Homo sapiens: one gene and its partners. The protein of the gene in region 2 purifies or fractionates together with the protein of the main gene of each other region. This does not show direct contact. Each region holds a gene or a part of one and is shown on either strand. Other genes may lie near its edges.

Evidence for each region.
Region 1: the proteins of YBX2 (region 2) and DDX55 purify together in Homo sapiens (co-immunoprecipitation; 2 studies listed by BioGRID and IntAct, with this or other methods). This does not show direct contact.
Region 3: the proteins of YBX2 (region 2) and TRUB2 purify together in Homo sapiens (co-immunoprecipitation; 2 studies listed by BioGRID and IntAct, with this or other methods). This does not show direct contact.
Region 4: the proteins of YBX2 (region 2) and MTERF3 purify together in Homo sapiens (co-immunoprecipitation; 2 studies listed by BioGRID and IntAct, with this or other methods). This does not show direct contact.

The regions. Positions count from the first base shown.
Region 1 is NC_000012.12:123,608,599-123,612,098, reverse strand, and holds part of DDX55 (ATP-dependent RNA helicase DDX55), read right to left. Parts: intron 3,420-3,500; coding exon 3,270-3,419; intron 2,161-3,269; coding exon 1,971-2,160; intron 1-1,970. UniProt on the Homo sapiens protein: Probable ATP-binding RNA helicase. Has ATPase activity and is involved in the maturation of precursor large subunit rRNAs.
Region 2 is NC_000017.11:7,291,840-7,295,881, forward strand, and holds the start of YBX2 (Y-box-binding protein 2), read right to left. Parts: upstream 2,801-4,042; 5' UTR 2,662-2,800; coding exon 2,391-2,661; intron 1,700-2,390; coding exon 1,636-1,699; intron 221-1,635; coding exon 187-220; intron 1-186. UniProt on the Homo sapiens protein: Major constituent of messenger ribonucleoprotein particles (mRNPs). Involved in the regulation of the stability and/or translation of germ cell mRNAs. Binds to Y-box consensus promoter element.
Region 3 is NC_000009.12:128,308,948-128,312,447, forward strand, and holds part of TRUB2 (pseudouridylate synthase TRUB2, mitochondrial), read right to left. Parts: intron 2,655-3,500; coding exon 2,582-2,654; intron 2,077-2,581; coding exon 1,940-2,076; intron 929-1,939; coding exon 603-928; 3' UTR 1-602. UniProt on the Homo sapiens protein: Minor enzyme contributing to the isomerization of uridine to pseudouridine (pseudouridylation) of specific mitochondrial mRNAs (mt-mRNAs) such as COXI and COXIII mt-mRNAs.
Region 4 is NC_000008.11:96,238,902-96,241,756, reverse strand, and holds the end of MTERF3 (transcription termination factor 3, mitochondrial isoform 1 precursor), read left to right. Parts: intron 1-1,901; coding exon of another isoform or gene 1,902-1,928; exon of another isoform or gene 1,929-1,963; intron 1,964-2,071; coding exon 2,072-2,266; 3' UTR 2,267-2,355; downstream 2,356-2,855.

The sequences.
Region 1 (3,500 bases), on a different chromosome or scaffold from region 2:
CTTCAGATTTTGGAGGATTTTGGATTTTGGAATTTCAAGTTAGGAATGCTCAACCCATACTTATTGTGTACTAAGCACTATCATGAACATTTTTGCATGGATTAATTAATTAATCCTGCAGCAACCCTACGAAGCTGTATACTACTGTGGCCCCCATTTGACAAGTAAGGACCTCTAAGTTCATCGGTTAAATCTGGTAGGGGCCAAAGCCAAGATATGCACCAGGCAGTCCTGCTCTAGCGCCCATGCTCTCCACACTACCCTATGCAGAGTCCTTCCCTCTGCTTGGGAAGAGCTAGCCTCCTCCCTCACCCAGTCCAGCTTGTCAGAAACATCAATGGCAACTACAACTCCCACTTCTGATGAGCCTATCTGATTTTGACAACACTCTCCAGTTACACTAGGTGCAGTTTCTCATTTGCAAACTCATTCTACCTTTAATCTGCCTACAAATTGACACAAACCGGAGAGCAGCCTCGACAACCTCACAGTCTGCAGCAATAGGAACATTCTGGTTTCGAGACCAGCCTCCTTCATTTTGAACAGCAGACATGTTCAGGAGCTAGGGAACCCCTCCAGGCCTAACGAAAAATTTAACCTGAGAAAGCTTATTGCAAAAGAGAAAGAAAAGCCCCAGCCCCGGGCTGGTGGGCCAGTGTACCGTCAGCAGTGGCACTGGCCTGTGGGTGCCTCCTCGCCCTGATGGTGCTGCCTCCCCTGCAGCCTGTGCTCTCTACATTTGTGCCTCCTGGCCCATCCCAGCAATGGGACAGAACAGAACAGGGGTGAGGAGTGGCCTCATTACTAAACAATCAAGTTGCCAAAAGCCCATCTACTTCTTTGTGAAGAAACTACAGAAGCCAGCAGCCAGTATTTACTACTAGAAATTCAGCATATTTGGGCCAGGCATGATGGCTCATTCTTGTAATCCCAGCACTTTGGGAGGCTGAGGCAGGAGGATCATGAGGTCAGGAGTTCAAGACCAGCCTGTCCAATGTGGTGAAACCCCACCTCTACTAAAGATACAAAAAATTAGCTGGGCATGGTGGCACATGCCTGTAATCCCAGCTACTCGGGAGACTGAGGCAGAAGAATTGCTTGAACCAGGAGGCAGAGGTTGCAGTGAGCCGAGATCGTGCCATTGCACTCCAGCCTGGGTGACAGGGTGAGACCCCGTCTCAAAACAAAAAAAAACAAACAAAAAAAAACGGCCGGGCGCGGTGGCTCACACCTGTAATCCCAGCACTTTGGGAGGCCGAGGCAGGTGGATCACCAGGTCAGGAGATGGAGACCATCCTGGCTAACAGGGCTAACAAAAAATTAGCCGGGCGTGGTGGCGGGCGCCTGTAGTCCCAGCTATTCGGGAGGCTGAGGCAGGAGAATGGCATGAACCCAGGAGGCGGAGCTTGCAGTGAGCTGAGATCGCGCCACTGCACTCCAGCCTGGGCGACAGAGCCAGACTCTGTCTCAAAAAAAAAAAAAAAAAAAAAAAAGAAACTCAGCATATTTGATGCAGGTCAAAAATACACAACATTTACGGAGCAGAACATTTCCACCCCACAAAGTCTCCTTAGGAGTGAGTCTGTCATTTGATTTTCTGTGTTCCACCTGCACATCTAACTATGCCCTTCTCTGTCAGACAGGCTGTTCTGACGGGCCCAGGAACTACAGAGCTTAGTCATGGCTGCACCCAGCACACCCCAAGCATGTACAATAGAAACATTTGGTCACTTGAGGGTAGGAGGTTCAGAGACTCTGTCCTTAGAGACTGTGCTTAAAATACATTTATGTCCAATTTAACTTATTCATTCAATGAGTAGGACCACTCAGGCCATTTGCCCTAGCTAGCTCTGTCCCCAAATGCATTTCATAGGTGCTACAGGGTCTCACATATTTATTCTACCAGTACAATTTCCATAAAATGAGCACTGGTCATTATCGCTGAGTAAGAAGCAAGCCCAGGCGCTTACCATGTAGTAGTTTTCCAGGCGGGAGGGGGTCTTCTGGGCACTGCTGGCTGCCACGCCCTTCTCCTTCACTGAGACCCGGACAGGGTTCCGGAGGCCCGCTCTCACCAGGTTCTCCACTTCCTGCGTCTGAGTGGCAGAGAAAAGGCCTGTTCTCCTCTGCTTTGGCAAAAACTCCAGAATGGTGTTGATGCTGATAAAAAGAGGGCTCACACTTAACCGCTCACTTGCCAGCAGAATCAACACACAGTGCTTCACGATACTAAACAGGTATTCAAAAAGACTGAAAGTGAAGCCATCAAAATATTTATAGCACATACACTGGGAGGTGAGATTATAGGTGATTCTTTGTTTCTTCTTTATACTTTCATTTTTCCAAGGTTCCTCAAATTTTAGCATACAATTATAATGATATGTGAATTATATCCCATAAAGCTGTTTATTAAAAAACAACAAAACTGCCAGGTGTGATGGCTCATGCTTGTAATCCCAGCACTTCGGGAGACTGGGATGGGAAGATCTCTTGAGCCCAGGAGTTTGAGACCAACCTGGGCAACATAATGGGATCTTGTCTCTGCCAAAAATTAAAAAAAAAAAGCATGATGGCATGTGCCTGTAGTCCCAGATGACTCAGGAGGCTGAGGTGGGAGGATCACTTAAGCCCAGGAAGTAAAGGTCGCAATGACCCGAAATCATGCCACTGCATTCTAGCCTGGATGACAGAGTGAGACCCTGTCTCAAAAAAAAAAAAAAAAAAAAAACTTGAAGGAAAGTGCATTTTAAGATCAAAGATAGAACTGGAATAAAATCACGTGGTAGAATTTGAAAGCTCAAACTACTTAATGATTTGAAATTAAAATGTGGTTAATAAAAATACTTAGGCCAGGCATGGTGGCTGGCACCTGTAATCCTAGCACTTTGGGTACCCTAGGTAGGAGGATCACTTAAGTCCAGGAGTTTGAGAACAGACTGGGCAACATGGCAAAACCTCATCTGCAAAAAATAAAAAAACCATCCAGGCATGGTGGTGTGCACCTGTAATCCCAGCTACCCGGGAGGCTGATGCAGGAGGATCATCTGAGCCCGAGAGGTTGAGGCTGCAGTGAACATAATCACACCACTGCACTCCAGCCTGGGTGACAGCACAAGACCCTGTCTCTAATAAACAAATAAATAAAAAATAAATAAAAATGAAAATAAAAAATAAAAATACCTAGTCATGAAACAGTAAACTCCATTTTGCTCCCCTTTTGTATTAGTATCATCTGCCCACTCAAGCCAGTGAAGTCCAAAGTCCAGTACCTTGCCTCAAACCCCATGTCCAGAAGTCTGTCTGCCTCATCCAACACCAGGACATCCAGGGATCGCACACAGCTGGCCAGATCCAAGCCTTCGGCCTTCCTCCGGAACATGTCCTCCAAGCGGCCTGGAGTGGCCACAATGATGTTCCCACTTTGGAAAGAAAGTTAACATTTACCAAACTCTCTGGATCTTGGGAATGTGGTTGATGATTACCAAAATACCAAGTTTTAT
Region 2 (4,042 bases):
AATTCTGACGGACGTTTAGTAACCCAGCACAAGTGCGGCTAATGGTGGTTGACACAGGCACCCAAGGCGGATGGGCCGTTGTGAAGAAGAGCCAGAGAAACATGGCGGAGCGCACTGCTAAGGATTACAGCAAAGGCCTTCAAAGACGGCCGGTTCTTCCCCTCAGAAAGCTAACCTAGCTCTTACCTGGTGAACAAAGACATCTTCCTTGGTGTCATTCCTGCAGAACAGGATGGGTCGTTAAGGAAGGGACTTCAACAAAGCCCTCAGCTCCTCACTGAGGTCCCCCTAGATGCCCAGTCTAAGCTCAGTGGGCCCATCCTCTCCAGCATTCCAGTTAGGGGTGGACATGGCCTGGGGAATGGGAGGGAGAGCCAGCAGGGCCCCCAGAAGCTGGTGTAAAGAGAGATACACCTAAAACCTCAGTGCCAAACCTGGACTTCACAAGGAAAGGGCAGGCTGGGGAGGCAAAGGCACCTTGAGGAACCTCAGACAGCTCTGCCCCTGCCGGGACTCCACCTTCCACCCCAGGCTAGCCTTACAACCTGCCAGCGCTGGGTGCAACTGTCCCTGGCCAACACCCCCTCCCCCAACCCCCATCAGGGTTGGAAAATTCCAGTCTTCTTCCTTCTATAGTCAAGGAGGCAGAAAGTGCAGATGGGGCCAGAGGGGCAGAACAAGTTTGAGAAGGGAACAATGTGTCAGGAACTTGCTCTAAACAGCTGCCAAACTTTATTCTCATCCTCAGCCTGGAGGTGAATCCCAGAGTCAGGACCACTCTCAACACGCGTGGGACCAAGGGTGAGAGAGAAGAAAACATTCACCCATTCTCTATCATAAGAACCCCAGTGGGTGGGGGGAGGGGAGAAAGGAAAAGTTTTCCTGGAGGCACTCTGCCCCCGACCCAGTCTGCCATTTCCAGAATTAGACAGGGACCCTTCCCCAGAACAAACGTTTTAGCTTTAAAGCACTTGGATCTGCACAAAGGTCAGCCTGCTAAGAGGGAACTAGGGCCTCCCAGGAGAGCCAGGCCGGGCAGGATGCCTGGGCTGGGGAAGGGCCCACTGGGGGAGACCTGGCTCTGCTCAGAATCCACTGCCACAGCCTCTCCCGGTGCTGAGGGGTGGGGCTGCCTACTGAAGGAAAGCAGCAGCCTCTGGCTCCTTCCTCCTGACCCCCACTGTCAGCCTCAGTCCCAACAGGTGGAGGGCTCGAATGAGCCACAGCTCTTTAAGGGAGTTGAGTTGTGAGTGCTGCCATAACAGGAAATCAGTTGAGGATTCCAGCCGGGGGCCCTGAGGCACAGAGAACCCTATAATACATTCTGCCCCAAAGGCATGTCAGAGTAAAAGTAATGAAGCAATTCCAGAAGGTGAGATGAGAAGCTGGCAGGGTCAGAGCCAGGTTTGCCAAGTTCCTGAATCATTAATCCTCCGCTACCCTTGAAGATGCGGAGGAGGCTTCCTCTTGTCACGAAGCACACATTTGTGCTGCGGTTAAAGGCTTTCAACCAGCATCAGCTGGACATTGCAACCATGTGCCTCCGCAGGGGTCGATGAGGTTGGGCGGGTGTCCAGTCCCACAGGCCAGCTGGGAAGACACCCATTCCACCCCCGCCCTGGGTTCCTTGGATACCTGTTGATGAATCCGTAACCATTCCGGACGTTGAACCATTTGACAGTGCCCAGGACTTGGATTGCTGCCAGGCAGAGATGCAGTGGGGACAGTGAGATGGGGGGAAGAGATGGAGTTGAACTCAGTTTTGAGACACTCCAAAACAAAAAAAAATCTAGCCTACTGCCTTATTACCTATTCAGGTTACCTTCAAGCCAACCAGGTTTCACTAGTAGCTTCAAGGTATTCCTACCCTAGTCCACCAAATGAAATCACCCACACAGGGACTCAGGCTTTCAAAAAGCCTTCCAACTCTAAGTCACGTTCCCCACATCCTACAAATCCAGCCCCTTCACCTAGAACTGGGTACTCACCTGGTCTGCAAAGTGCCGCCCCCAGGTCATAACTGAGGGTTTTTCTAGCCCTCCCAATGCAAGGGTCCCCAGTGCACCTGCTTGCCAGGCTCAGAGGTTTGCCTAGTTCTAACCCAGTCAACTAGGCACTGTGTCCCGCCCGGGGGCGTGGCCGGACCCTGGGGCTTTATTCTCCACCCCAAGACCTTAGCTGAACCTGCCGGCCCCGCCCTCTCTCCCAGGAAGGTACGGCAGGATTTCCCACCAGGGGAATCCACTTTGGTGCGCAGCTCCCAGCCCAGTTAGCGCTCTGGGCCTGCGGGCCAGGCCGCCTTTGGTTTTCCGGATCCTGCCGGGCTCCACACTGCCCCTCCCCCAGCCCGCCGACCCCTCAGAGCCGCCCTGTGCGCGCCTGCCCCTCACCCAGCACCGGCTTGTCCGCCTGACTCCGGGCCGGGGGGGCGGGGGTTCCCGAGACCGCCGTCGCCGGATTGCCAGGGGTGCGGGAGCCCGGCGCCGAGGGGGTCCCAGCAGCGGGGCCCGAGGCGGCTCCGCCCCCGCCGCCCGCCCCGCCGCCTTTCTGCGGCTCCCCTGCGGGCACCGGTACCACCACCGCTACCACCCCTGCCGCCGTCGCGGGCACCGTCGCCGCGGGGACCGCTGTAGCCCCCGCTGCCGCCTCCACCTCGCTCATCCCGCCGGGTCCAGTACCGGCCACAGCCGCCACCGCCCCGGCCCCTCCCCCCGGCTCGCGAACCCACCGCCCTGCTCGGTCCTCGCGCCCCGAGCCTCGCCCACACGCCGGCAGCGGGCCCGGAGCCGAGGCCAATGGCAGCCCGCTGCCGCCGCTCGCGCAGACCCCGCCTCCCGACCACGGGCCAATCCCAGCCCAGCAGCACCCCCGGACCGCACGCCGACCCCGCCTCCCGGACTTCGCACCGCGGCCCCGGCCCCCGCCAGCCGCCCAGTAAGTACACCTGGGCCCCGCCCCCTGGCCGCCACGTGACGGCCCCCGGCCCAACCCATTGGCCGGCGGCCCCTTTCCCCTCCCCCCTCCGCCCCTTTCCACCGGCCGCGGGAAATCAAACGGGCCGGTCGCGCCCCAACCGCCACCTGGCCTCTGCGGGAAGGGCGGGGCCGGGGCCGCAGTGCCAAGGTTGCCCCTAACGACCTGAGCGAGGGGCGGGAATCTGCAGCCTCGGTTCTGGCAGTGAGTAGCACCGCTCGCCTCCACCCTCGAGACCGACCTTGCCCGTATGCTGCCAGGTGCAGACGCCTTCCGGCCACCACCGCCCTTGGCACCCTCTCCCCACAGGACGGCCCTGCACACCCTGGGGCTGCGGGATCCAACCGCAGGATAGGCTGGAAAGCGCAGCAGAATGGTTTTCCCGGCTCACACTTGCTCCCATGAGCCAGGACCCCCTACTTTTCTTTTTTCTTTCTTTTTCTTTTCTTTTCTTTTTTTTTTTTTTTTTGAGACAGGGTCTCGCCCTGTCGCCCAGACTAGAGTGCAGTGGCGCGATCTCGGCTCGCTACAACCTCCGCCTCCCTGGTTCAAGCGATTCTCCTGCCTTGAGCCACCTCAAGGTGGCTCCCGGCCTGCCCCTACCTATGTTTGTATTGGAAACAAGGTTTACAAGTAGTACAATGCGCAATTCTTCTTCGCTGAGTTTGTTTGTTTGTTTGTTTTGACACAAGGTCTCCCTCTGTCGCCCGGGCTGGAGCGCAGTGCGCGATCTGGGCTCACTGCAGCCTCTGCCTCCCGGGTTCAAGCGATTCTCCCTCCTCAGCCTCCTGAGTACCTGGAATTACAGGCTTGCGCCACCACAACCTGGCTAATTTCTGTATTTTTAGTAGAGATGGGGTTTCACCATATTGGCCAGGCTGGTCTCGAACTCCTGACCTCTGGTGATCCGCCCGCCTCAGCCTCCCAAAGTGTTGGGATGACAGGGTAAGCCACCGTGCCCGGCCTTCGCTGAGTTTTGATCAATGTGTCCACCCATGTGGCCCATACCGACCGCTGCAGCTCTGATGTCTACCGCCCTAGACTGGCTTTGGGGTCTCTCACGTCTGTA
Region 3 (3,500 bases), on a different chromosome or scaffold from region 2:
AGGTTGAGTGTCATTTCTGGCTTACTAGCCATTTGGATTTCTTCTGATACACACTTCATCTCATTTGCCTAATTTTGTCGTTGTCTTCTTATTGCTTTCTAAGGGCTCTCTGTATACTATGGATATTAGTCCTTGGTTAATGACACTGCAAATACTTACAATTTTTTTTAATTTTTAATTTTCGTGGGCACATAGTTTATTGAGAATTTTTTTTTTTTTGAGATGGCAGGGGTCTCATATGTTCCCCAGACTAGAGTGCAGTGGCTATTCACAGGCGCCGTCTAGCGCACTACAACCTTAAACTCCTGGGCTCAAGCAATTCTCCTGCCTCAGCCTTGGGAGTAGCTGGGATTACAAGTGCCCGCCACCACGCCTGGTCTGCCAATACTTTCTATCAGTCTGTCATGTTTACTGTCTTTTCCTCCATACAGAAGTTTTTCCTTCTCAGTTGGGTCAAGTCCATTGACCTTTCTGTTACAGCTTGAGTTTTGTGTCTTACGTAGAAAAGGTGCCCCTGCTCTCACTTTCTGCACAGCTATCAGGTCCAGCTCATAGCAGTTCTTCTATTTATCCATCCACTGCCCCAGGAGCTGCCTGGGCATTCACTGCCCCGCACCCCTCTCCAGCCCCAAGGTAGAGCTCGGGCCCTGGGAGTCCCAGGACCATCCCGGACTGGGGAGCTGCTTGGTGTCCAGCCCCGGGCTCAAGCTCTTCTCCAGCTCTGCAGCTACCTGAGGGGTAGCAGCCCGGATAGCATCCTGGATGTTGGTTAGGTCCCACTGGGTCCTCAGGAGGGCACTGTCTAGCGTGAAGAAGCCGTCGCGCGTGCGCCGCACTTGGGTGCAGACAGCAGTGGTCTTTAGTTCCAGGCCGATTTCATGAACCAACTTCCGCAGCTCTTTCTGCGTCTCATGCATGCACTGCACCTCTGCCAGGGACACACAATGACAGACATGGTGGTGAGAGCACAGCCTCTAGTGTGTGGTTGTGAACGCACACCCCTTGGATACCTCCTAGGTGTGTAACAACCTTAGCAAGACCCCTAAGCTCTCCAGGTTGTGCTATTCAGAGGACCTGCCCTGTGGGTGCCACCTGAAATGTGTTAAGACTTGCAGAACCTCAGGCCCCACCGGGACCTGCCAAGTCAGAATCTGCCCTTTTTTGGCAACAGGGTCTCATTCCATCACCCAGGCTGGAGTGCAGTGGTGTGATAACAGATCACTGCAGCCTTGACCTCCTAGGCTCACATGATCCACCTGCCTCAGCCTCCGGAGTAGCTGGGACGTTCTGAGCCATCACAACTGGCTAATTTTTTATTTTTTGTAGAGACAGGGTCTCGCCATCTTGCCCAGGTTAGAACCTGCCTTTTACTAAGACTCGGTTTCCCTATCTGTAAAATGGGAGTTATGAGGAGTAAAAGAAATCATTTATAGAAAGATAAATGATTATCTTTAAAATGTTATTAAGATGTTATCTTAATAACAGAGTTCTGTGCTCAAGCAGAGGAGCAGGCATTAACATGACCAACAGAAAAAAGGGGCGGGCGCAGGCAGAGACAAAAGGAACACAGATAAGAGGGGCCTGAGCTGGGTGGGACTGGGGACGTAAGAGTTGTGTCTGATGGAGCCCTCACAGCTTCAAACATGGGCAGCTCTGGAAATAAGCCACTAAATATAACCTTTGCTTGGTAAGGTCTGGCTTCCAAGGGTGACTTGGCAAGAGATAGGAGAGCTTTTGTTCTGCGAGCTCTGTCATCAGCCAAGTCCAGGCCAGGGCTGGGAAGGAAGTCGGCACCTGATGCCTTGGCCCGCAGAGATCAGGGCCGGCGTGTGCTGGCCTCAGCTGAGCCAGACAACAGTGACCTCTGCAAGAGCGTTCCTGAGTGACTCCCAAACCTACGGGTCCCATCTCACTGCTCCAACTTCCTTGGCCAACCTACCTAAGAGGAATTCCGGAGGTGCAAAGTAGAGGCATCGGATGCCAGTTATCAGCATCGGGGACTTGTTCATGGGCCGGATCAGGCCTCTCACGGCCATCTCATAGGCCTCCTGGGTCTTCAGGTCGAGGTTGGAGTACCTGCAGATCAGGAAGGGGGCTGCAGCTGGGTGGCCCACCTACCCTTTCCCCCACATGAGGTGCCTCTCTGGAAGCTCCTCACTTGCTTTGTGTGCCCTGCCACCGTGGCTCCTCCAGCCACCTTTCCTGCCCTCCTTCATCACCAGGTGCCTGGTAGAGTCAGGAAACCCAGGCAAGCTGGCTCCAGAGCCCAAGCTCTTAACTCCTTGGCTGCTCTTGCCCTTGGGCTCTGTGCTCCAATGATGTGGTCCCTGGTTTCCTTGCCATTAGATCATATACTCTCAGCAGGACAGCTTGGTTCTCTTGCTCTTCTTGGCCTCCCGTTGGCCAACCCAAGACCTGGCACACAGAACCATTTCTTAATGCCAAGAAAGAAACAGGTAGCTCCCGTCTGGTTCTGGGCTCTAAAAACAAGATCCATGGAATCTGCCCCAGGTTTGGGGGAGCCTACGGGAGCCAAGGGCACTTACTGCTCTCCCAGTACCTCCCTGAGGGCCCTACTCACATCACCAGGGCCTTCTGATGGGAGCCTTGGATAACGGCCAGAATGCGGTCCAGCTTCTCTCTGGTCACGTGGTCTGGAAAAGGCAGGGGGTTGTCAATGTACAGGTACCTGCTGAGTATTGGTCACAGCAAACTCCTTCCCCCCAGGCCAGCCCCATCCCTGGAACATGGAGAGAGGATGTTTTGGAGGGATCCCCATGGCGGGGTGGTTGGGAGTCCTTTGAGATTCTCATGAAAGCACTGGACCTCAGAAAGATACTGGATCTCAGAAAGATACACATGACTCAGCAGCAAGGGCACTCTATTTTTTTTTTTTTTTTTTTTTTGAGACGGAGTCTCGCTCTGTCACCCAGACTGGAGTGCAGTGGCGCAATCTTGGCTCACTGCAAGCTCCGCCTCCCAGGTTCATGCCATTCTCCTGCCTCAGCCTCTCGAGTAGCTGGGACTACAGGCGCCCACCACCACGTCCGGCTAATTTTTTAAATTTTTAGTAGCAAGGGGGTTTCACCGTGTTAGCCAGGATGGTCTCGATCTCCTGACCTCGTGATCCGCCCGCCTCGGCCTCCCAAAGTGCTGAGATTACAGGTGTGAGCCACTGCACCCAGACTTTTTTTTTTTTTTTTTTTTGAGACGGAGTCTTGTTCTGTTGCCCAGGCTGGAGTGCAAATGGCACAATCTCAGCTCACTACAAGCTCCGCCTCCTGGAGTCAAGCAATTCTCCTGCCTCAGCCTCCTGAAAAGCTAGGATTAAAGGTACACGCCAAGACACCCGGCTAGTTTTTGTATTTTTAGTAGAGACGGGGTTTCACCATGTTGGCCAGGCTGGTCTCGAACTCCTGACATCAGGCAATCCACCTGCCTTGGCCTCCCAAAGTGCTGGGATTACAGGCGTGAGCCACCGAACCTGGCCTTTTTTTTTT
Region 4 (2,855 bases), on a different chromosome or scaffold from region 2:
TAATATGTCATTAATAGGATGAAATTTTTGTGCCAATGGCAAAGTAGCCCCTGGTGGCCAACAACTCTCCCCCCACACCACCACATCCATAAAAAAAGAAGGGAGAAACACCGCAATCTGAGCAGTAGCTTTTGGACTTGAAAGAGTACACAACTCTCTAATGATGGAGTAACTTTGGTCCACTGGAGAAGTAAACGTATAATATCTGCTCATAAGCTAAATAAATGCTTTGAAGTGTTATTATATTTAGGAAATTAGTAATCGTTTAGGAGCACCAGAACCATTTGTGGTTTTGTCTGTTGTTGGGTGATAGTTTTTTTTTGTTTTTTGTTTTTTTTGTTTTTTTTTGCGATGGAGTCTGGCTCTGTCGCCAGGCTGGAGTGCAGTGGCGTGATCTCGGCTCAGTGCAACCGCCGCCTCCCGGGTTCAAGTGATTCTTCTGACTCAGCCTCCTGAGTAGCTGGGACTACAAGCGCCTGCCACCATGCCCAGCTAATTTTTGTGTTTTTAGTAGAGACGAGGTTTCACCATGTTGGCCAGGATGGTCTCAAACTCTTGACTTCGTGATCCGCCCACCTTGGCCTCCCAAAGTGCTGGGATTACAGGTGTGAGCCACCGCGCCCGGCCGGGTGATAGTTTTTTAAGCCAAGAATCACTGCATAGGAGTCATACTTCTAAAAAAAAATCTATCTAAAACCTCTTACATCTTCGTTATCCATAATATTGTGATCATGGGAATTTAGTTATCAGAACAAGGGCAGAATAGCAGAGACTGAGAAGGGAGATGTTCTGTTCCAAAAGCAAGCCAAACCCATGTTGAGGTACACCCTGTGCTTTTTTTAGTCACTCTTCTCATAGTACTTTGGTTTTCAACAATTGCTTTTCATAGTGTCCTTTCCAACTGATCTGTTACTGTTTCCACTTGAATATAGGGAAAGAGGCCTAGGGGTTATGTGAACGCATCCCGTGTTCACATTATATCTGTAACAGCCAAGAGGAGAGCTTGAGGCAGGCATAATATTGAAAGGGCTTCCTCTGAGCCTCATCGGGGAACCTCACAGGTCTCTCAGGCTTCAGGGCTGTAGCTCAAGTCTGGCCGGATCTCCCATTTGTCTCTTCTTTCTGTAGCTGGCTGTAGAGCCTTGCCTGCTTCTGACTCCTTTCTAAAGTTGCTGCCGCTTACTCTAGTTTTTAGGAGTTTTACTTTGAGGCAGGTAAGACATACTTTCCCTAGTTGCTCTCCCAGAGGTCAGATTCATTTCATTTTGATTCTAGTTAAGGGGAGGAGTGCAAATTTTAAAAAAGGGAGAGAGAGAGGTGTTACAGATTATGAAATCTTATACATTTTTATATAATAACATCTTAATCTCTAACATTGGTTCTCAAACTTGGTAGATATCAGAATCATCTAGAGGGCTTGTTAAGACAGATTTCTGGGTTCTGCTCTCAAAGTTGCTGATTAAGTAGTTTTGGGGTGAGGCTTGAGGATTTGCCTTTTTTTTTTTTTTTGAGATGGAGTCTTACTCTGTTGCCCAGGCTGGAGTGCAGTGGCGCGATCTCGGCTCACTGCAACCTCCGTCTCCTGGGTTCAACCAATTCTCCTGCCTCAGCCTCCTGAGTAGCTGGGATTACAGGCATGCGCCACCACGCCCAGCTAATTTTTGTATGTTTAGTAGAGACAGGGTTTTGCCATGTTGGCCAGGCTTGTCTTGAATTCCTGACCTCAGATGATCCGCCTGCCTCAGCCTCACTAAAGGCGTGAGCCACCACGCCCGGCCGAAGATTTGCTTTTTTAACACATTCTCCTCTGTCTCTGGAGCACTCAATCTTCTTTGCACACAGTATAGCCCTGAATTATTTTATTATTGTTTTGTATGTTGATTTTGAATCCCTTTTTCTAGTTTCTTCACAGAAAATATAGGATTTAAATCCTCTGGCATTTATCCTACTTACTGAACACATGGTCAGTACTTGGTATTGGTTAACCTATTAAAATTTTTGCCAAGTAAACTTTTTAATATTTCATCCTCCCGTGTGCAGTGTTTTTTAAAAACTTTTTTTTCTTTTCTAGGTATTTAATACAAGGCTGTTTAAGGTCAAAGAAAGACACTTGTTTCTTACCTATTTAGGAAGAGCACAGTATGATCCAGCAAAACCTAACTACATCTCTTTGGACAAACTAGTATCTATTCCTGATGAAATATTTTGTGAAGAGATTGCCAAAGCATCAGTACAGGACTTTGAAAAATTCTTAAAAACGCTTTAGATTTTTATGTATGTTAAAATGCAGTATTGTAAAGTGAATATATATATGAATAAATGAATATATTTTTAAATGCCTCGGGTCTCAACTGATATTGGAAACCATTTGATACTGTAAATTTGGGTACATATACTGTGGTAGAACTTTCATCAAGTTCCTAGTGACTTAATTCTTGTTTGACTTTTTCCTTCCTTCTTAGGAAATACAGCAAGCTCAGAGAAGGGGAAAGAGTTGGTTTACTTTAAGTTGGTGCTTTGTCATTCTCGTGAAGATGAAAACAGTGGAGGATTTTTAAAGTGGTTTCATTATAAAATGGCTTTATTTCCTTTGAACTGTTACGAGTTTCCAGAGCATACTACATTAGTCATCTAATATCTACTGCTCAGATAATGCTACAAAACACACTTCATTTTGGATTATCTACATTGTTAACTTCTTGAACACAGATATTCACAGTTGGCTAAGAATAAGGAAAAGGAAAGTGGAGTTTAAAGATTAGGGGCAATGAGATATAGTGAAAGGCTTAACTAGCCTTTGACTTATTACCAGTAAACAAATATTTGTTTTCCATTTACAACATGTGTTATCCTGG